Linked DNA regions of Homo sapiens: all the other regions are linked to region 1. The links come from fine-mapping of genetic effects on gene expression. A gene starts in region 1. Each other region holds a variant in brackets. All regions are shown on one strand. Distances are from middle to middle.

What was found. PIP is the estimated chance that this variant, and not a neighbour inherited with it, causes the effect.
Region 2: its variant is fine-mapped to the expression of FBXW7 in CD4 T cells (Kasela 2017, PIP 0.95).
Region 3: its variant is fine-mapped to the expression of FBXW7 in whole blood (INTERVAL, PIP above 0.99).
Region 4: its variant is fine-mapped to the expression of FBXW7 in whole blood (TOPMed, PIP 0.95).

The regions. Positions count from the first base shown.
Region 1 is chr4:152,533,726-152,538,725 of GRCh38, forward strand. FBXW7 (F-box and WD repeat domain containing 7) reads right to left here and starts at 2,367. Exons shown (of 14, transcript NM_001349798.2): 1 at 1,402-2,367; 2 at 1,216-1,308. It overlaps MIR4453HG (MIR4453 host gene), which reads left to right and starts at 2,539. Exons shown (of 1, transcript NR_033797.2): 1 at 2,539-5,000. It overlaps MIR4453 (microRNA 4453), which reads left to right and starts at 2,703; the gene lies at 2,703-2,791. RefSeq lists enhancers at 713-812, 2,062-2,597, 2,303-2,662 and a silencer at 1,403-2,192.
Region 2 is chr4:152,223,875-152,229,074 of GRCh38, forward strand. It overlaps LOC105377490 (a long non-coding RNA gene), which reads right to left and starts at 1,998. Exons shown (of 3, transcript NR_188450.1): 1 at 1,957-1,998; 2 at 1,370-1,576. The variant T/A (reference allele first, on the strand shown) is at 2,693.
Region 3 is chr4:152,646,971-152,652,170 of GRCh38, forward strand. All of the region lies in intron 3 of TMEM154 (transmembrane protein 154), which reads right to left. Among named protein-coding and RNA genes, the nearest start is that of TMEM154, 30 kb to the right of the region's middle. The variant A/G (reference allele first, on the strand shown) is at 2,548.
Region 4 is chr4:152,696,050-152,701,249 of GRCh38, forward strand. No RefSeq gene overlaps it. Among named protein-coding and RNA genes, the nearest start is that of TMEM154, 19 kb to the left of the region's middle. RefSeq lists enhancers at 885-1,114, 1,145-1,194, 4,666-5,177. The variant C/T (reference allele first, on the strand shown) is at 2,124.

The DNA.
Region 1 (5,000 bases):
GAATATGTAAATGAACTGTCACATAATACACAGGCTAATAAACTTGCAGAACTCATTACTTTAAAAAAAAGGACCAAACATTGTTAAGTTTGAGAAAGTTTTAAATTAATCTAATCAAGATCCTGAATGGAGAACTTCGAAAAGAGAGATAACCCCAGGCTTACATTCATTCCCACAAAGTATCTCTCAGCAGTGGCTTCAGACAGAACGAGCCCACAGTTGTCTAGACGGACCACAATTCTCAGTATACTACTGTCTATGTCTTCTTACATAAAATTCTGCTCTATGTTTAACCCTTAAGGTCTGTATATGAAATATTAATTACTTTCATAAACCTTTAATTTGGTACTCTGACAAGATACCTAAAATACAAGTCAAAGGTTTTATAAACTTCAGCTTTAAAATAATGGAAGGAAAAAATCATTCCTGACTTAAATATCAAAGATGTATCCTAAATTGATACAGAAATAAAGATAATTCAAAAAAGCAAAGCCTCAAACCAAATAAAAAAGTGCTGTAATTTGTTACTCTAAAAAAAAAAAGGGGGGGGTGAAAGGGAAAAAATCACAACTTTTATAAAATGATTAATGTGATAAATGCTCTTCCCCAAGTAAGTTGTGATTCCTAACAACTCAAGTTCCTGAGTAACTGACATCTGTTACAGTGTCCTCCTGACACACATGAAATTGGACCCAGTAACTGAGAAGGTTAACTCCTGTACCAATAGGTACTGAAATGAACCTCTCTCAAAACAGGTTTGTTGTTGTTTTTTAAAAAAGGAATTTTACTTTCAGGGGTCCACAGGTTAAGTAGTTCTCATTCGGGAACCTATATGAGAGTACCCCCGAAACAAAAAGTACACCGCACACACCCACAGTACCAGGAAAAGGTTACAGATACAGATGGCCTCTGTGCGCACATATGCTCTGGCTTCCTCAATTTCCCTTTGCCAACTGCTGGCCAGAAAGGTGCGAGTATTCACTTTGGAGAAAAGACTCCTCCGACAGAAACCTGCATACTTGCATTACTCGTACAAAGAGCTAAAAAGTTACAAAATACAGGCCTCCCTAACACCTTCCCCCCTCCGTGAATAAAGCTAGACTCCCTCATTGATAGACTCCCAACACTACTGGAGAACATCAGCAAAACTCCAGGAGGAAGCGCCGGCATCCTCCCACTTTCTCCCCCTCAATTCCCTCTCCCGGGGCCACTCACACTTTTAGAAAAGAGCCGCGGCGCCGAGAAAGTGGGTTGGTTCCCTTCCTCCTTCGGACTGAAGCGGCAGCTGCGGAAGGCTCCGGCGCGGTACTGAGGAAGAAGCGGTGCTCGTGTCGCTAAACCAGGCGGCAACCCGGGTCTCTTCCGCGCTGCCAGGGGAGGGGAGGCGGCGGCCCCGCTTACCTCCTCTTTTCCTCTTCCTGGGTCTTTTCAGGCTGCGGCTTCTGCCCGTCCAGGGCCACTTCTCCCGGGACAGTCAGGTTTGGGAGACTCCGGATTTTGTTTTTGTAAAGTTTCCTCTGGGTGGAGGCTGCGGCCGGCCCCCCGGGTCCCCCCCGGCCCCGCCGCCCTCGGGACTGGGGCGGGGGAGGGGGGCTCTAGGAACTCCTCCCGGAGTCCAGCCAAGGAGCCGGGGGGCCGGCGACTGGCCAAGGGAGAAGACCCCCGGAGGGGGCTGAGGGGAGGGGGAAGGTGAGGAAAGGACGGCGGCGTCGGTCCTGTTCTCTCCGCCGCCCCAGCCGCCGCTTCACATCGGGGTCCCCGCCCCCCCGGCCGGGGGGTGGTTGCCGAGCTTGGTTGGGGCCCCGGTTCATACACTCCGGGGCAAGATGCTACGGCCCCGGGCGGGTGGCCGAGTCGGCGGCAAGGCGAGGGACCCGGCCGGCTCCGCTCGGCGCCGCCCCCGCTCCCGGCTCCCGCATGTGTCGCTGCGGCTGGGACCCCCCTCCCTACACCTTGGGGGTCTCGCCCCACGCCCCACGGGACGAGGCAGAAGCTCTGGCGCCTCCTCAGCGTTCTCTCACCGCGGAGCAGCTACCCACTCCCGGCCCGTGGTAGCCGCCTCCCTGCCCCCCAAGCCGCCGGCTCCGGCTCAGGCTCGGGCTCCGGCTCTGGCTCCGGCTCCGGCGTGTGCAGCCGCCGCTGCCGGCCGGGAAGGTGAGGGGGGGAAAGGAGTGCGGCCGCGGCTCCCGCTGGCCCAGGTGAGAGCGAAGGTCTCGGCGGCGGCCAGTGCAGGGGGACTGGATCTCTCGGATGCTCCTTCGCTCTCAGTCTCAGCGGCGGCGGCGGCGGCAGCGGCAGCGGCAGCGCCCGGAGCTCAGCTCGCTGTCTCCCTCGCTCTGTGCGGGGCTCTCGCCTCACTCCAGAGAGAGGGGCGGGAGGAGAGCGGCGCCTGCCGATGACGCAAGTCACCTAGCAACCGCTCTCTTCCCCCTCCCTCTTCTTTCCGCTCTGAGGCTTCCTCCGCTGGCCTTTTTCCCCCTTCCAGCCACCCCGCCCTGGGCGCCTCTGGCGCGCTCTGATGACGCTCCAAGGGAAGAGGAAGTGGGGATCGGCGAGCGGGTGGGTGCGCCTCGGGCCGCGGGACTCGCAGCCGCCACCGCCGCTGCCGCCTCTACGGCCGCGTCAGAACTGAAGAGAGGAAGGGGAGGAGCCGAGTCGAGCCTAAGCTGCCGCCCGATCTTACCCCTGACCCGAGGGCGGCCTGGAGAGCTTGGTCTGTAGCGGTTTCCTTCGGGGCAGGTGGGGACTGCTCCTTTGGGAGGAAGGAGGAGGCCCAGGCCGCGTCTTCAGGCAGCTGCGCGCACCACCCGAAGGTGAGGCATTTGGCCCCAAACAGACCCTCGAAAAGCCGGACTGATCGAGGAGTTACCCTACAGCCTGATCTGCACCTGCTCCAGGGAGAGAGCGCCCCACCCTTCCCGTGGCGTGGGGTGAGACCCAGCGTTGGATAACGTGTGGTCGGGCCGAGCAAATGTTTGATGAATGAATGAATGAATGAATGCCTCTCTCACGTGGCACTCGTGAAGCTCAGAGGATATGGTGGAAGTGCAAGCGCTTTGTAAACTGCAGTGCATTGTAAAAATGAGTTGTAATACATTCCTCCCCTCCCCCTAGCCATGAAAGGAAACAGGGGTGCGGCTTGAGTACAGAGTCACAACCTGAGTCTTTAGTGGAAAAGGAGACGAAATGCCGAGCAAGGGAAGGGACCCATCCTCGCGCAGATTGTTAGGGCGGCGGGAAGGGAGGATTGGAAGGGAGCCATCCTCTGGGAGATTGCTGAAGGATTTTTGACTGTCAGGGGAAGAATTTAATAGTCCCTCACTTTTACGAATGGTTCTTTCTTACGGTTTGGAGCTTTCGAGAGCTTCTGGTCTTGGTTCATCAGTGTACGTTGTCATCAAGAAATGTTGGCCTGTTTCAGGTCTGACTCAAAGGTTATTTTCTTTCTAAAATAAGTGTTATTACTATTATGCAGCTTTTCCTACAGATGTTATCCTGGAAAGGAAAGTTAAGTAGAAACTCATGAAGTTTAAAGTGTAGTTCTCTAGGAAAACAAATTTAAGATAAAAGGACCAGAATCCTCAGAAATCTGTCTTCAGTGAATAGTATGAGAAAAAGATTAAAGCAGCAGCAATGATGAAAGCAGATTCCACAATTCTGTCCCTGGACCCTAGTACACTCTACCTCCTTGGGAAGCAGTAGTAATGGATTTTACAAGTCTTTCCACCTGGAGGAGGGGGTAAGGTAGGAGCAAGTGTATTATAGACAAATGTGGGAAGCTCTGGGTTTCTCCCACTACTGCCACTACCATCTGCAAACAGTAAACTAAGGAAACTTTTAACTGGGTAAATCCAAGGGCTCGTGTTCATTAAAATGCTGCGGGAAAGGTGGTGAGAGGGGCAAAGGAGGATGTGGCAAAACCAAGGAGAGACTCACAGACTAGCACCTGACCCTACTGCCCTTGACCTGAAGTTCCAAGAGCCAGGTTAAATATCCTGCTTAAATTACCCTGGATTTTTCTGTCTTTACGTGACCAATCCCCTGCTACAGCCTTCCAAATAAGACTCACAGGTAATCAGACCAACAAGTGATGGTCTCACATGGCTACAAAATAAATATTTTTTGTTTTTCCCCCTCTTCCTATCTTACAACAGGGGAATGGTGGAAATTAAAGGAGTAAAACACACAGATTTAGGGGATTTTGTGAAGCTAAACACCTCAGAGAGTTTAACCTTTGTAGGCTTTGAAGGAAAAGAGTGCAAACATCAGAGTTCTGCAGCCCAGCAGAGAACACCTCCAGTTAAGTGTGTACCACATAGGGTTTTTCAGCAGCGTGATCTTCTGTTTTCATTGTCAGTGGCTCCACCTTACAACCTCAGTGCTGAGGAACAGAAGGGCACTCAGGAGAGCCTGAGCCACTTACTTAGAAAGTATTTAATAACAGCACACTAAGCTTACTGGGCTAGATACCCACCTCAGCACCCAGCTTGATAACAGGAGGAAACAGCTGGAACTGGAGACTGGAGAGAAGGAAGTTCATACATTTCCAACTTGGTCTGCATCTCTTTAGTTCCTTGTATTGCTTATTAATCCAGAGGAGAAAACAGCTAGTTAATTAAAAATTCCAAAAAATCTGAAGTTTTAGCTAATAGTTACTTCCCTGGTTCATCAATTTAAGATAAGGATCTAAATACTGTGTTAAAATATAGAAAAACGGAGACTCTTATAAGGTTTTTGACCTCTACACTTGAAAGTGAGCTCTTACAAGAAACTAATCAGTGTTTCGTTATTCCATATCAGTGGCTTTTACTGTCAAAGATTGTGTAAGCTAAATTATCTGGCAAAATTTTGCTTTCCAGAAATACTATCTATATTAATTTTAACATTTTTATTGTGAAATATAGTTTAAATACATAAAGCAATTATATAGTATAAGTGATTATAAAGGAAACCACCATGTAACCAATCAACCAGGTCAAGAAATGGAATATTTCCAGCAA
Region 2 (5,200 bases), 310 kb before region 1:
TCGTGCTTGCTAAATATAATGGAATCTAGAAACAGTGTGCATGGAGCACCCTGTTTTTGTTTTAAGCTGAAAGAAACCCTAAGGCAGGTTAGGAGAAAGCAGCCTGCCCAGACCACAGCCGTTGCCTACGGATCAGAAAGAGGCCTGGGCTGGAGTGAGGAGCAGACCTTTCCCATGGAACCCAGGGTCACACCAACTCTGAGGAGCCCAGTGACCCACATGGGCCTGGGAAGGAAGTGGCCAGGATAGGCCAGCTGGGGACAGTGCCTGGCTCTCCACTTCTGCCCCATGGTGCCTCTGGGAGAGTGATCTCACCTCCTGTCCAAACCCCAGACTTCAAGTAGCTTCTCCAGCTTTTTTTTTTTACTATTAAAAAAAAAAGAGGAGAGAGAGAGCTGGGGAGAATTAGAGAAGGCAAAAGGTGGAGGGGCAGACAGGCTGGGCTAAACCGGCGAGCGTCCTGCCAGGGGTAGCTGTGCGGGAAAGGGCCTGAGGCTGGACGTTAGCTAGAGCTCTGCTGCGATGGAACAAAAATAAAGTCCCTTTTCTGCAGGGTGGGGGATTCCTGAAACAATGCCCATTGTGGACTTCTAAAGCCTGGCTGGGGCCCCAGCTTCTAAAAGGGGTTTTGAGTTGTAACAGCAACAACAACTCATTTGCTTTTCGTGGTGATCCCTAGGCCACCCTATCCTGATGGCCTGATCTTCAGGAGGACAAGGTGAACTGTTCCCCTTATCTCGCCTTGCTTGACAGGACAGGGTTAGCAGGAGGGGAATCAAGTTTAAGTTTTGTTTTGCTTTTTTTCCTCCCTTCTGGTATTTCCTACTGTACATGCTGCCAGAGGCGATGACAATGGTGGAAACTAATAAACTATATGTATAAGCTTTTCTTTCTGGTACAACAAACACAGGTTATGAGTTTCTCTGCCTCTTTTAATCATTGCTTAAAGTCTTTTCTTTTCCTTGCCTGTGGACTTCAGCACTTGCCTTGCTAAAGGCCTCTGCCTTTTGTTCTGGCCTGAAGCACAAACTTCAGTGGCAGCCTCCTTGTTTAGGGCATGCTTTCTCATCCTCTTTCTGTTTCCCCTTCCCTGTGTCTGTCCCTCCCTCCCCTTCCCTTCTCAGCACCCCACTCCCTCCCCCAAAACCAGTTTATTTGTTTGAAATTGCCAATACAGCATTTCCTACACTGACAGTGTAGGAAACCTGAGTTATGGATTCTGAGTTTCTAGTTTACTGCCCAAACGACTCAGGGCATTTATTTCATGGGCCTCTTCCAGGTGGAGCAGGTAGGGAGAGGTGCTAAATAACTGACTTGCCAGAGTGTGTTCATCGTACGAGTTCCCTCTGCGTCAACTAATGAGACTTACATAATTAAATGCGTGTAAATCTTCCCTGATTGGCGGTGTTGGTCCCTGGTTTGGGAATGTCAGAGAAGGCTGGCAGGTGGCATAGAAGGGAGGTGGGCTTGCCAGGTATCTGCATCCCTCTTCATGGCCTCCCTCTTCCAGGGATCTTCACTACTGCCTCCAAGGCTCCACCAGCCAGAGGACCAGGCCTCTGAGCCTCTCATGCCCCTGGGAGGAGAAAGGCAGGAAACAGAAATGGCCTTGCCTTATTCTGCATATCTAAAAGCAAATTACCTTAGCTCCAAACTAAAAAAAAAAAAATGCTTCTATATGTAAACAGCACCCATCAATCGCTGGTAAATTATTTCCTTCTCCCTTCACAAACACATATCCAGCCTTAATTCAGATAATCTTTGACTTAGAAGTAAGAACCCGCAGAAGGACTTTCAGATGTAGATTCCAGTAATTTTGCCACAGATTACTATAGGATGGTAGGTGACCTTCAACACAAATAATTCCTCAGTTTAGACTGAAACCACCAGAGAATATCTGAATAAACACAATGTTTGTCTCCAACAGCTCAGCTCTCTTTGGTTGCACCATCTCACCTGTAGCTGTGTTGTCGCTAAGCCCTGGCTGGGAGGAGAGAGCTGGATGGATCCATCTCTGCCTTGCTGTGTGGGATTGGGCAAGCCACTTTCCATCTGGGCCTGTGTTTCCTCAGCTGCAAATTAAAAATTAAACTGAATTATTTCTAAGATCCCTTCCATGTTTAAACTTCTATGAGCCTGAGATGAAATTTGACTACTAGTAACCAAGTCTATTAATGATTGTTAATCCCTACACATCCCCACAAGAATATGAGCTACTGGTGACTTCAATACTTTTATTAAATATATATATAATTGAAATATAATATATATGCAGAAAAACACATAAATGTACTGCTTGATGGGTCTTCCCAAACTGAACATACCCTGTGTAACCAACACCCTAATCCAGAGGCAGAACATTCCCGGCTCCCACAGAAATCCCTCACCCGCCACCTTTCCAGGCTCAGGTTCCATATTAATGCTTCATAAATAAATTTTGAGTCTACAACTACTCTACCTTCAATTCTGTTACTTAGGCAAATTCACAAATAGTCCACACCTGCATTGTAATAAACAATAGGGGACAAAATAAACAGTTCTAGGGAACTAGAAATGGTCCTTTATTACCCAGAGAAAGAGCTTGTCAAACACAGGAGATACACGAGAGCATGAATAAAACGAGAAATGGCTTAAAACATGACAATTGTGGCAGTGGTCAATAGCATTGATTCCTTGAGTGCTCCTGCCTAGA[T/A]GAGGAAATCAGTTCATTACTGAAAGGAAAATAACAGCATTTACACCCATTTCCAACACCAAACACACACACACACACACACACACACACACACACACACTGGCATGGTTCATTTCGGTCACTGAATATAACTCCTTCTTTTAGAGAAAAACAAATGTTTAGGGTTTCATGAGTCATACAAACGTATGCAAAGCACACTATAAAGACAATATAACCTCTATGAAGATTGATTTGTAATTCTCATATCAGTGTATTGAGGGGTCATTGATGGATTTGCTTTATATTCACCGGCCATGAAATCAAATCGTGGAGCCTGACTCTACCCTCTGGGATGGCCCAGAATCGGGAGGTGACTGGAGCTGAACTTTCCTTAGGTTGCTGGTATTTTCTCCTAGGTCAGGAGGAAGGGTAGGGATTTTAGATTTGGAAGGGTCTATAGAGGACCTGCAGTGCAAACCCTCTATTTTATAGATAAGCAGTTTGGACCCAGAACAGGGAAGGGAGTTGACCGGTCACCAGCCAGATGGTGGCAGGCCAGGGAACTCCTGTGCTCTTTCTGCTACCCCACGGGCCATCCCTGATCCCGTGTCCTGCTGTGGCAGCTCCTGGATGTGGAGTTACCTGCTATTCCCTTTCGCAGCATCAAAAGCAGGGGAGATGGGAGGAGCTGCCACTGGCGCCCACAGCCCTTCTCCTCTTGGCCTTGTGTGGTCAACTAAGACTGTCTTTTGCACGTTTTCCTTTTTGAATGTAGATTTAGGAAGTTAAGGTAACCTTATCCCCTAATTCCTGCCACTTCACCATCACCTCTCCATGCCAGTTCCCTCTCTTGTTTGGGGGAGGTCCTTGTTTTTCTCCTCTTCCATTCTAGCCCCTGTGTGCACCTGCTCCTCCCTGCAGGTGCCCTCTCTAATGAGTTTGATGCACACGGTGTCCTTGGTTGTCTGTGTCCTTGTAAAGTTTAGCTTGATGGGTGTAGAGGTTTCTAAATTACATCAATGATAGTGTGCTACAGACTTTTTTCTGGTTCTTTCTTGTTTTGCTCACCACCATGTGTTTGAGTTCTATCCATGTACGATATGCACATTGAGTTGAGTCCATCTAACTGCTATGATATATTCAATAGTGTCGAGGGCCATATTTTACATCTAAGCTCTCCTAATAAAGGGTGAATTTTGGCAATCTCCCCAGCTCCCCTCCTGATGGCCTTCCCTTTCTCCCTGGCTGCCCAATGCTTGGACCCTGTCCTTCCTGCCTCCAGGCTGTGCTTCCTCCCCACTGTGTGCTATTACTCTCTCTCTGCAGATTCCCAACTTTTTCTTTGCCAATTTCACACCTTCCCCTCAGTTTCACCAGCCAAACCTTCTGCACTGCTGGATATCAGATTCCACTTCCTCCACCAGGACTTTCCCGCTTCCAGCAGCCCTCAGCTTCTACACAGCCAGAACACACTTTGTCCATATTATTCTTTTTTGGTTCTTGATGATATCTTGCTTCAATTTGCTAGGTAACCTGAATAAATCCCAGAGCCCTACATGGTCCATTCTCAGCCCAGTAGCATGTTCGGAGAAACACAATCCAACAATTTAAATTAATTACTAATTCTTCACTTCTTTACTCCATTTCTCTAGCAAACATTAAAAGAAAGAGACAATGATCAATGCACAGCAAACACCATTGAAAACAAAATAAAGCAGCCAGGTGCAGTGACTCATGCCTGTAATCCCAGCATTTTGGAAGGCCAAGGTGGGTGGATCACCTGAGGTCAGGAGTTCAAGACCAGCCTGGCCAACATGGTGAAACCCCATCTCTACTAAAAAATACAAAAATTAGCTGGGCATGATGGTGGGTGCCTGTATGGTGGGCATGTATGGGTGTATGGGTGCATGTATGCCTGCTGCATGTATGTATGGGTGCATGTATGCATGGGTGCATGTATGGGTGTATGGGTGCATGTATGGGTGCATGCATGGCAGGCATGTATGCCTGTATGGGTGCATGATGGCGGGTGCCTGTATGGCGGGCATGATGGTGGGTGCCTGTAATCCCAGCTACTTGGGAGGCTAAGGTGGGAGAATCGCTTGAACCCAGGAGGTGGAAGTTGCAATAAGCTGAGATTGTGCCACTGCACTCCAGCCTGGGTGACAGATTAAGACTCTGTCTTAAAAAAAAAAAAAAAAAAGCTTCTCTCCCTATCACATCCTCTCTCAATATCTCTTGTATATTGAAGGCAAAAGTTATCCGCTCGGCTGTTTCAGCACCATCTTCCCTTTTGCTTTTTCCCCATACCAGAAATGGCCACCAACACTTTTCCTCTGCTCAGACGCTAAGCTGGGTCACACCAGGATAGGTGGACGAGGGGCAGCTTTGTTTCTCCGAGAGCTCCTTTCTTGTGAATGGACAAGCACAAAGACCCCTGGGAAAGCTAATTCTCTCCAACTATTTTTCTGTGGAACTCTGATGAATGTAGTTCTCTGCTTTATAGAAATTATTTCACTTTGCAGCAGT
Region 3 (5,200 bases), 110 kb after region 1:
TGCAAATTTCATACCAGGAGGTCTAGGAAGAATGAGAGCAGAACATCACGTTACTACATCATGTTTCCCTTTCCCTGAACATGAAATGGACAAGCCCAAAGGAAAAAGTAATTTCCAATCAGATGAAGTGTTCTAAAAGTTTTGGCCAAGTCCTCTCCCATTGTCAAATTTAAAGACTTATTTCCTAGTATAGTATAACAGACCAGGCTCTACCCAAGTGCAGTAAGAAACAGTATGTCTGCTTCTAACTTCCCAGGGGACATAGTGTGCAGGTGTCCATGCTCTCCTATAAAGCATTTCTGTGGGAGCTTTCCAAGCAAAACGCTGGTATGACCTTCCATGATAGTTGTATTTTACCTGAAAAAAAATCAAATTTTGCTCATGTAAATATTCTGCTTTTATTAACTTTTAGCATTCAGTTTTTCTGAAAAGTTGTCCATCTGTTAAGCAGTTAGTGATCACGTCTGTGTTAAAGCATTGGCTGATAAGAGAAAAAAATTCAAATAAAACTCTCCATCAAAAACTTTTGTGATAAGCCAATTGTTTTGAAATGCTAAGTTTTCTCTGTTGTTTTTTTTAAAGTTAGGCATATTTAAGGTAAAAATAATGTACCAATTTTTAGTAAGGATAATGTACAAATTTGACTTTCCCTCTGAGCGTAGATGTTCTTTAATAAACATTCTAATGTTCTTTAATTAAGTCACTTATTCAACAAACATATACAAGCAGCTAGTGTGTGTTGGGCTAGGCGTTGAGTTAGGTAAAGGGATGATAATAAGCTAGCACTTAGCACTTATGCCAGGTACTGATTTTTTCTAAGTGATTTGCCTATATAAACCATTTAATTCTCACAACTCTATGAGGTGGGTATTGAATTTGCCCATTTTACAGATGAAGAAACTTAATCAGAGAGTCACGGTGCCAGGAAGTGCAAGCCAACCAAGCAGTGTGTGTGGTTTGAGTCTGGACTCTCAACCTCAATGCCACACTGTCACACAAGACAAATAAGACTAGCTCTTGGTTCTCCTGGACCTTAACGACCACATCACCCAGAAAGAAAAGAAGAAAAAAGAGAAGGAAGGAAGGAAGGGAAACAAGTCACCAACTTATGACAATGTGAATACTGTGAACAAAGAGTGTGAACAAAGTATTCTGAGAGCACAGAAGAGATGGTAATTAATTTTTCCTAGGGGAGGATTATTCAAGGCTTCCTAAAAACTGGGCCCTAGCAGGGGGGCGTGGTGGCTCACACCTGTAATCCCAGTGCTTTGGGAGGCTGAGGTGGGAGGATCACTTGAGCCTAGGAGTTTGAGACTTGCCTGAGCAACATAGCAAGACTCCATCTCTACAAAACGTTTTTTAAAAATGTCAAAAACTACTCAGGCATGGTGGCACAGGCCTGTGGTACCAGCTACTCTGTAGGCTGAGGTGGGAGGATCACTTGAGCCCAGGAGTTTGAGGCTGCAGTGAGCTATGATTGTGCCACCGCATTCCAGCCGGGGTAACAGAGCAAGGCCCTGTCTCTTAAACAAAACAAAAACAGACCTGGGCCCTGGAAAAAGGGATGGCAGTTTGCCAAGCAGACAGGAAGAAAATTCCAGACAGAAGAAATGGTATCAACCAGGCATGGAGGCATCCTGAAAGTCAAGTCAAGTTCTGGGAATAGCAAATACTTCAAGTGTTGTTAGAGTGGAGGATGCATGGACCATGTCTGAGGTTGAGGCTGGCTCTCGCTTGTAAATGGCTTTTGAACCTTGAGACTTTCACAATGAAATTCAATGAAAAATCAATTTCTGGATTTGGAGCCTAAGAGCCTCACCATGTGAGTGGATACCTCCAACATCCCCCCACCCCTTGAGTCCATTAGGTAAAACCAGTCATGGTTTGGGGAAGGAAATTATGACTTTTCCTGAATTTTAAAAAATTTAAAAAGCTCTGTTTGCTTTTTTTTCTTAAGCTTAGAAAGAAGCCTCCATATGACCATGTTATTAGGAAGTCCTGAAATTTCAAGCAGTGGAGAAACATGTATTTCCCACTTCTTTGGAATCTATTATATGGGCCTCTGCCATGAAAGGAAATACTCTTCGGGGCTTCTTCCCCAGCTCACATTTGCCTCATCTGCTGACTGTGAAAGATTCCTCTGGCACAGAGACAGTGAGGTGGGCATGTGGGACAAGGGCATGGCCCCAAAGCCAGAGGTGCCCTGTCATGGGTGTGAGGGACATAAAGTGAGTTTTGTATACATGTATGACTATGTATTGTATTAGAGACGTTCCTATCCTTTGAGTAACTTTTTGGAAAGACTATAAAGGCTTTAACTTAAAAATCGAATCCGAGCGAGTTTTACTGGCACAAGCCAAAAGTACCCAAGTCTGCTTTAGACCTAGAACTACCCTGACTCCTAGCACGTGATGCTCCTTGAATCACAACTGAATACTCTCAAAGTGGGTCTCTGACTGAGGGAATTTTCTATAATTGGTTTTCGGATTGATGTTAGTAATCTTTAGACAGTTGAAGAATTTGATTATAAAAGTTAGCATAGCTTCA[A/G]TGGGAATAAGAACAATGCTTCCTCCAGGACTTTTCAAGATCAAATTGGGATGTGGGGTGGGGGAGAAAATAAAATCTGTAACAGAAATATAGATGAAAGAATGCTCTTCTGGTGGTGATGACCCCAAGGCCTCTAGCCTTCCCATCCCTAACCCTAATCTGACTCACTCCTTGATCAGCCTTTCTCTTTCCCCAGTGATGGGAAATGTTATACTGGCTTATTGGCTAAAATTATACAGGATCCTCATCTGGATTAGGGTCAAAGATGGCAGCAGTAGAAAAGCATCCCCCAGAAATATGCAGGTTCAGGTCCAGACCACTGCAATAAAGTGAGTATTGCAATAAAGCAAGTCACATTAATTTTTTAGTTTCCAAATGCATAAAAAGTTATGTTTTTCCTACAATGTAACCTATTAAGTGTGCAACATTGTGTCTACAGAGACAATGTATATACCTTAATTTAAAATACTTCATTGCTAGAAAATGCTAACGATCATCTGAGCCTTCCGCAAGTTGTAATTATTTTTCTGGCGGAGGGTCTTGCCTTGATGTTGATGGTTGCTGACTGATCAGGGTGGTGGTTGCTGATGGTTGGGAAGGCTGTGGCAATGTCTTAAAGTAAGATCACAATGAAATGTGTCACATTGATTGACTCTCTTTCACAAAGATTTCTCTGTAGCATACAATGCTTTGTTTGATAGCATTTTATCTGCAATAGAATTCTTTCACAATTGGAGACGATTCTCACAAAACCTGCCGCTGCTCTACCAACTATGTTTATGGAATATTCTAAATCCTCTGTTGTCATTTCAACAATGTTCATGGCATCTTCACTAGGAGTAGATTCCATCTCAAAAAAAAAAACAAAACTCTTTGTTCATTCAGAAGAAGCAATTTCTCAGCCACTTAACGTTTTATCATGAGATTGCAGCAATTCCATGGCATCTTCAGGCTTCACTTCTTATCCTAGTTCTCTTGTTCTTTCTACCACATCTGCAGTGACCCCTCCACTCAAGTCTTGAACCCCTCAAAGTCATTCATGGGTCTTGGAATCAACGTCTTCCAAAATACTGTTGATGTTGATATTTTGATCTCCTCCTATGAATCGGAAATGTTCTTAATGGCATCTAGAATGGTGAATTCTTCCCAGAAGATTCCTTCCCAGATTTATCAGAGGACTCACCATCTATGGCAGCTATGGCCTTACAAAATGTATGTCTTAAACAATAAGACTTGAAATTCAAAATGACTCCTTAATCCATGGGCTGCAGAATGGATATTGTATCAGCAGGCATGAAAACGTTAGTCTCCTTGTACATCTCCACCAGGCCTCTTGGGTGACCAGGTGCATTGTCAATGAGCAGTAATATTTTTAGTGGAATCTTGTATTTTGAGCAGTAGACCTTAACAGTGGACTTAAATTATTCAGTAAACCATGCTATAAACAAATGTGCTAACATCCAGGCTTGGTTGTTCCACTTACAGAGCACAGGCAGAGTAGATTTAGCATAATTCTTAAGAGCTGTCAGATTTTCAGAATGGTAAACAAGAATTGACTTTAAGTCACCAACTACATTAGCTTCTAACAGGAGAGTCAGCATATCTTTTGAAGCTTTGAAGCCAGGCAGTGATTTCTCCTCTCTAGCTATTAATAGTCCTAGATGGCATTTTTTTTTTTTTTTTAAGTAGGGACAGGGTTTCACCATGTTAGCCAGGCTGGTCTCAAACTCCTGACCTCAAATGATCTGCCTCAGCTTCCCATAGTGCTGAGATTACAGGCGTGAGCCACCATGCCCAGTCAGATGGCATCTTCTTCCAACAGAGGACTGTTTCATCTACATGGAAAATCTATGGTTGAGTGTAGCCACCTTCATCAACGATTTGAACTAGGTCTTCTAGATAACTTGCTGCAGCTCCTACATCAGTCCTTGCTGCTTCATCTTGCACTGTTATGTTATAGAAATGGCTTTTTCCCTTAAACCTCATGAAACACCCTCTGCTAGCTTCCAATTTTTCTTCTGCAGCTTCCTCACCTCTCTCAGCCTTTGTAGAATTAAGGAGAATTAAGGCCTTGCTCTGGATTAGGCTTAGGCTTAAGAGAATGCTGTGACTGGTTTGATCTTCTACCCAGACCACTGAAACTTTCTCTATATCAACAATAATACTGCTTTGCTTTCCTATCATTGTATGTTCACTGAGTAGCACTTTTAGTTTCCTTCAAGAACTTTTTCTTTGCATTTACAACTTGGCTAAATGTTTGGCACAAGAGGCCTGGTTTTCAGCCTATCTCAGCTTTCAACTTGCCTTCCTCACAAGGCTTAATCATTTCTAGCTTTTCACTTAAAATGAGAGATATGTGACTCTTCTTCCATTTGAACACTTACATGCCATTGTAGGGTTATGAATTGGCCTAATTTCAATATTGTTCTGTATCAGGGAATAGAGAGGCCTGAAGACAGGGAGAGAGACAGGGAATGGCTTGTTGGTGAAGCAGTCAGAACACACACAATGTTTATCAATTAAGTTCACTGTCTTCTGTGAGCATGGTTTCAGGCACTCCAAAACAATTACAACAGTAATATCAAAGATAACTGATCACAGATCACCATAACAGGCATAGTAGTATTGAAAACATTTGAAATATTGTGAGAAT
Region 4 (5,200 bases), 160 kb after region 1:
TGGTAGGGAGCTTGGTTCCATTGCTTCTTCATATTTGCCTTCTGACTCCCGCTAAGCCTCACCTGAACCAGCAGACACAAATATTGTTCCTGAGGTGTCTTCCTACCTCAAGGCTCAATTGAGCTGAACTTCCCTAGAAATGACAAAGCAAGATACAAGAGAGATGGGCCCTAACAGACCAGTGAGCAGCCATGGCGGTTTAACAGACAAAAAGAGGATGGAGGGGGCTGGGAGAGAGGGCGACCACCTGTCCTGGTTTGCCTAGTTCCAAGGGCTAAAACTGAGACAGTCCTGAACAGTCCTATGACCAAGCACAGCTTTGTGTCTTGCAGGAGACGACACTTTCATGTGGGTCTATGAGACCTCATTGAACACAAGCATTTTATATTTTATTTGTTTTGTGAGCATGCTAAGAGTTAATTTTCCAATTTTCTTTTTTCTTTTTTTTAATTAAACAATAGATGTGTCAACCATCGAAAAACTTAAATATTCAGAGAAGCAAGAAAAAAACAAATGAAATCACTTGTAATCTCACTTTCCAAGGAAAATTACTTTTAAGATACTGGTGTTTCTCCTTCCAATCTTTTTATGAGCATTTATTCTAAATATCTGTGCAAATATAAATATATTAAATTTACTTTCTATTTAGGAAATCAAAGAAGTTGGGAGAATAGAAAAGATCATTAGACACAAACAAAAGATGGTACACAAAGGGAAATGAAAATAAAACATGAATGACAAGAGAAGTTAGGGTAAAACTGATCCACACCAGTGCTTCTCCAGGAGCCATAGCCTTGATCTGAGGCATCAGGGCAGTGCTTTGTCCGTGGAGTGTGCTAGAACCATGAGGTCATCCTCTCTGATGGTGGTCACCCTCTCTGATGGTTCTATTACTTTTAATTGCAAAAACAGCAATTGCTTTTGCACCAGCCTAATAAGTATATGCTGGGCTCCAGAACTGAAGAGGACTGAACGTCATAGGAGGCTGTGGCTAAAGAAACTGGAAATGGTTCAGAGAAGAGAAACCAAGATGACTAATAAAGGGGAGCACAATGAAGCCTTTGAGCAGAGGTGAAAGAAAGCACAACTGTGCGGCCGGAAAGAAAGGAGGGCTGAGACAACGTAATACCATTCATGTAGATGAGGGGTGTGCACCTCTAAGGGGTGACTTGCTGTTCTCTATTTTCACTGAGGACTGAAAAAGGAGAACAAATAATAAACATTACTCTGTATGTCTAAGGGTTTTTTACTTTGCCAGAATTTTTTTTTTTCCCAGTGACTGATATCATCCTTACATTTTGAGATACTGACTGTCCTTGCACAGGGATTTAGGTTTGCATAGGAGAAACTACCACGGTGGCTGTTAAAGCATCCAGTGAGATTTTCCAAGGAGGGCACAGACTCTTCTTTCAATGATCAAAATAGAACCATTCTTCATCACATAGGGATGCTTTCTACATTGCCCTGCCTAAGAACCAAGAATAGTAAGTATACATTCCATTTCTAGAATACATTAATTGAATGTCTTTCTCCTTTCTAAACTCATTGGGCCTGTGAAACAATCATTTGAGGTCACGAGGAAGATATTATCTTCCCATTGTCCAGGTGAGAAAATGAAGGTTTAGAGGAAGGAAGTGACCTGCCCAAGGCCCCACAGTGAATGGTAAGCTAGAGTATATTCCAGATCTAGGGATTCTGGGTTTCCAGGACTCTTGCCACACTAGTCAATCTCTGAGATCAGAATCACCTGCAGGGCTTGTTGAAACACGGATTGCTGGATCCAGCCCCAGAGTTTCTGATTCTGTAGGTCTTGGGTGGGGCCTGAGAATTTGCATTTCCAACAAGCTCCAGGTAATGCTGCTGCTGTCTGGGAACCACACTCTGAGAATGACTGTGTTATACCACACCTGCCAGCCAACTAGAGCTGTGAAAGGAAAACACTTCAGTAAGACCTCAAACCCAGAGAATTTTCATTCAGACCTCAGACTCAGAGAAGTTTTATTTAACTTGAAAAATCATCTGCATGAAACTCACTAATTTCTGACCACCTTCCAAGCAACTGGCCCCTGTGTTATCAGAACACATTAGCACACAAGTCCACTCACAGTGCAGAGTCCAAGCCT[C/T]GCTTCCACACACTTTCCCAGAGCAATACAACCCAAAGAGGTAGAAGTGGAGCAGGGGAACTAAGAAATATTGAGCACTTATTCTATGACAGGCAGTGTTCAGAGTCTTGTATAACTCCTTATTTTATGTTTACAGTCACTCTGATAGAGAAACAATTATTCCCATTTTACAGAGGAAGAAATTGAGGCTCAAAAGGGTTACACAACTTTCCTAGGAAAACAACTAGAATATTCAGCTTCCAAACTATATATTTTTTTGACATCACAGATTCAACTATTTTAGATCCATTCCCTAACTTGTATTCTATCCACCCTAATTTTTAGCCCCTTAGCACATTTCTCTCCCCCATTCTTCAGGGTTAGTGAGCCTCCCGTCTTCAGCCTATGGGCATTGCACTTAATTTCTTTCTAATTCATAAAGCTCTTTTCTGAACTTTGGTGCCAGAATCATTTAGGACTTATTGGTTGTCTATTTAGCTTGATGCAAAGACCTAACCTAGAGGGAATTAGTTGGGTAAATTGTGGCACATCCTTATGCTGTTGTACATGGACATAAAAAATGGTTGTGATATATTTGAATTTTATTTTATTTTATTTTTACTTGTCTTTGTCAGGCAATATATTTGAATTTTAAAAAGCAAGTTACAATCATGCACAGTGTACTACTTTTTGTTAAAAAAAAAAAAAAACCACATGCATGCAAAAATGCACATTCACACATTGCAACCTACACAGCCTAGAAGAGTATACACCAAAATGTGAGCAATGATGAACTCAGAGTGGTGAAATTATGGGTGACTTTTACATTTTCTTTATTTTGTTTTTCTAAATGTTATGATTTTTCTTTTCTTTTTTTTCTGTCTCTTTATTAGAGACAGAGTTTCACCATGTTGCCCAGGCTGGTCTCAAACTCCTGAGCTCAGGCCATCCATCCACCTCAAACTTCCACACTGCTGGGATTACAGGTGTGAGCCACCATGACTGGACAAAATGTTATGATTTTTCTTGATAGATATGTGTAAGAAGCTTCTTCACCTGCCTTAAACTTCTTATCCTTCTCTCTTCACACTGAGTTCTTTACAAGCTCCTGGTGTTTATTCTCCTAATTAAATATTTAGTTCTATATTCTTCTCTATGCAAGAAAAGAAGAGTTCTTTGGGAGCAGGAAGGAAAAAAACATCCTCCCACCTATGTCCAATTCAAGGAGAAAACAAGCTGGCTACCAAAACTCCCCTGGGGCTCGTGTTTTCTATGCATGGTGAGAACACTATTCAAGGACGTCTAAGAACTGAGCATATATAATAATTATCTCTTTAGGGTTCTTAGGCTCTGCAGGGCATGCATAAGAGTGGAATACACCAACTCATAAATCTAAATGATTTATAACAACATTATATATACCACAATAAATACTTAAAGAAATAAATGAACAAAACTTAGACTTTGCAGTAGTGCTTTAAAAACATTCAAAAATTAATAGCTACAGTTCGAAGCCCTAGATAGAGTAGTAAATTCTCTATCCGTGTAAGTCTTCTAGAGACCCTGGTACAGTGAAGGCTCAAAGCTGTGCAGGTTGGAAGGAGGATTCTGCAGTGTTAAGCCAGGGCCCTTTGGAATGAGCCTCAGGTCCAGGCCTTTTCCAGTGGAGATCTTTCTCCAGCAGAACACAAACCATCAGGTGAATGACCTGGGTTGGGGTAAATTCATTCGGTCACACCCCATGCCTTGGGCCAAACCATGCACCCAGTTAAAGGGAATGGGTGGCTATTTCTGTATCCCCAAGAATAAAACCAACTGTGACCTCTAATGCTATTGGGGCTAGAAAGGGAAGAAATATGCCTTCTTTCATGTGAATTCATGTAAGGGATGAGGATGGGGAATCATTCACTGAGCAAAGATAATTATTTGCAACTAGAACATCCCTAAGCCTGCAAATAAATCTTCAGAATAAGACCATGAGAGTAAAAGCAATTTCTGGCCCAGGTCTCATGCCCTAAGCACTTCACCTAGACAATCCTCCTGAGAAAAACAAAAAAGTCACTCCTTCCCTAGGCCTGCTGGTTCTGGCCTGGAGGCTGGTTGCTTAAACCAATGATTGTTTTCTAGAGAGCTGTCAGGGAGAGCAAAAGTAATGAAATCATTTCATGTTCTTTATCTGGGAGAGTCAGCCTGTGGCATTCTCAGCACTTCTCTTGAGCTGTATCTATCACTGTCAGACTGTCTTGTGGGAGTGGGGCATGCAGATTAAAAATGACTTCACAGCCCCTCCCTCGCAGGTTAGGGAGCATGACATCTATTGGCAGCTGGGCATCTGATGGCTGAGAGCCAGGCACCACATTGCTACATTTCCACTGGGTCCTTGCTGAAAATATTTCTCCTGAATAATATCTTGGCCCTAATGTTGAACCAACTCCATCCCAGACTCACATCCTCTCTGAGATGATCTTTTGGTGATCTTCCACTCTCCACTGTAGCTTTTCTTCCTACCGCAAATTCAACACTGTAGCAGATTTCCCATGGTGTATTGTTATCGGGGGACCTGCCCCGATAATCACGTAGGTTCTTTTCTATTTTCCTAAGCGTCGACTGGCTTGAGAAATAAAAGGACAGAGTACAAAAGAGAGAAATTTTAAAGCTGGGCGTCCGTGGGAGACATCACACATTGGTAGGATCCGTGATGCCCCACAAGCCACAAAACCAGCAAGTTTTTATTAGGGATTTTCAAAAGGGGAGGGAGTGTGCGAATAGGTGTGGGTGACAGACATCAAGTACTTAAAAGGGTAATAGAATATCAAAAGGCAAGTGGAGGCAGGGCGAGATCACAGGACCACAGGACTGAAACGAAATTAAAATTGCTAATGAAGTTTTGGGCACCATTGTCATTGATAACATCTTATCAGGAGACAGGGTTTTGAGATCAACCGGTATGACGAAAATTTATTAGGCGGGAATTTCCTCTTCCTAATAAGCCTGGGAGCGGTATGGGAGACTGGAGTTTATTGCACCTCTGTAATCTCGACCATAAGAGACAGGTACGCCCCGGGGGGCCAGTTCAGAGACCTACCCCTAGGTGCGCA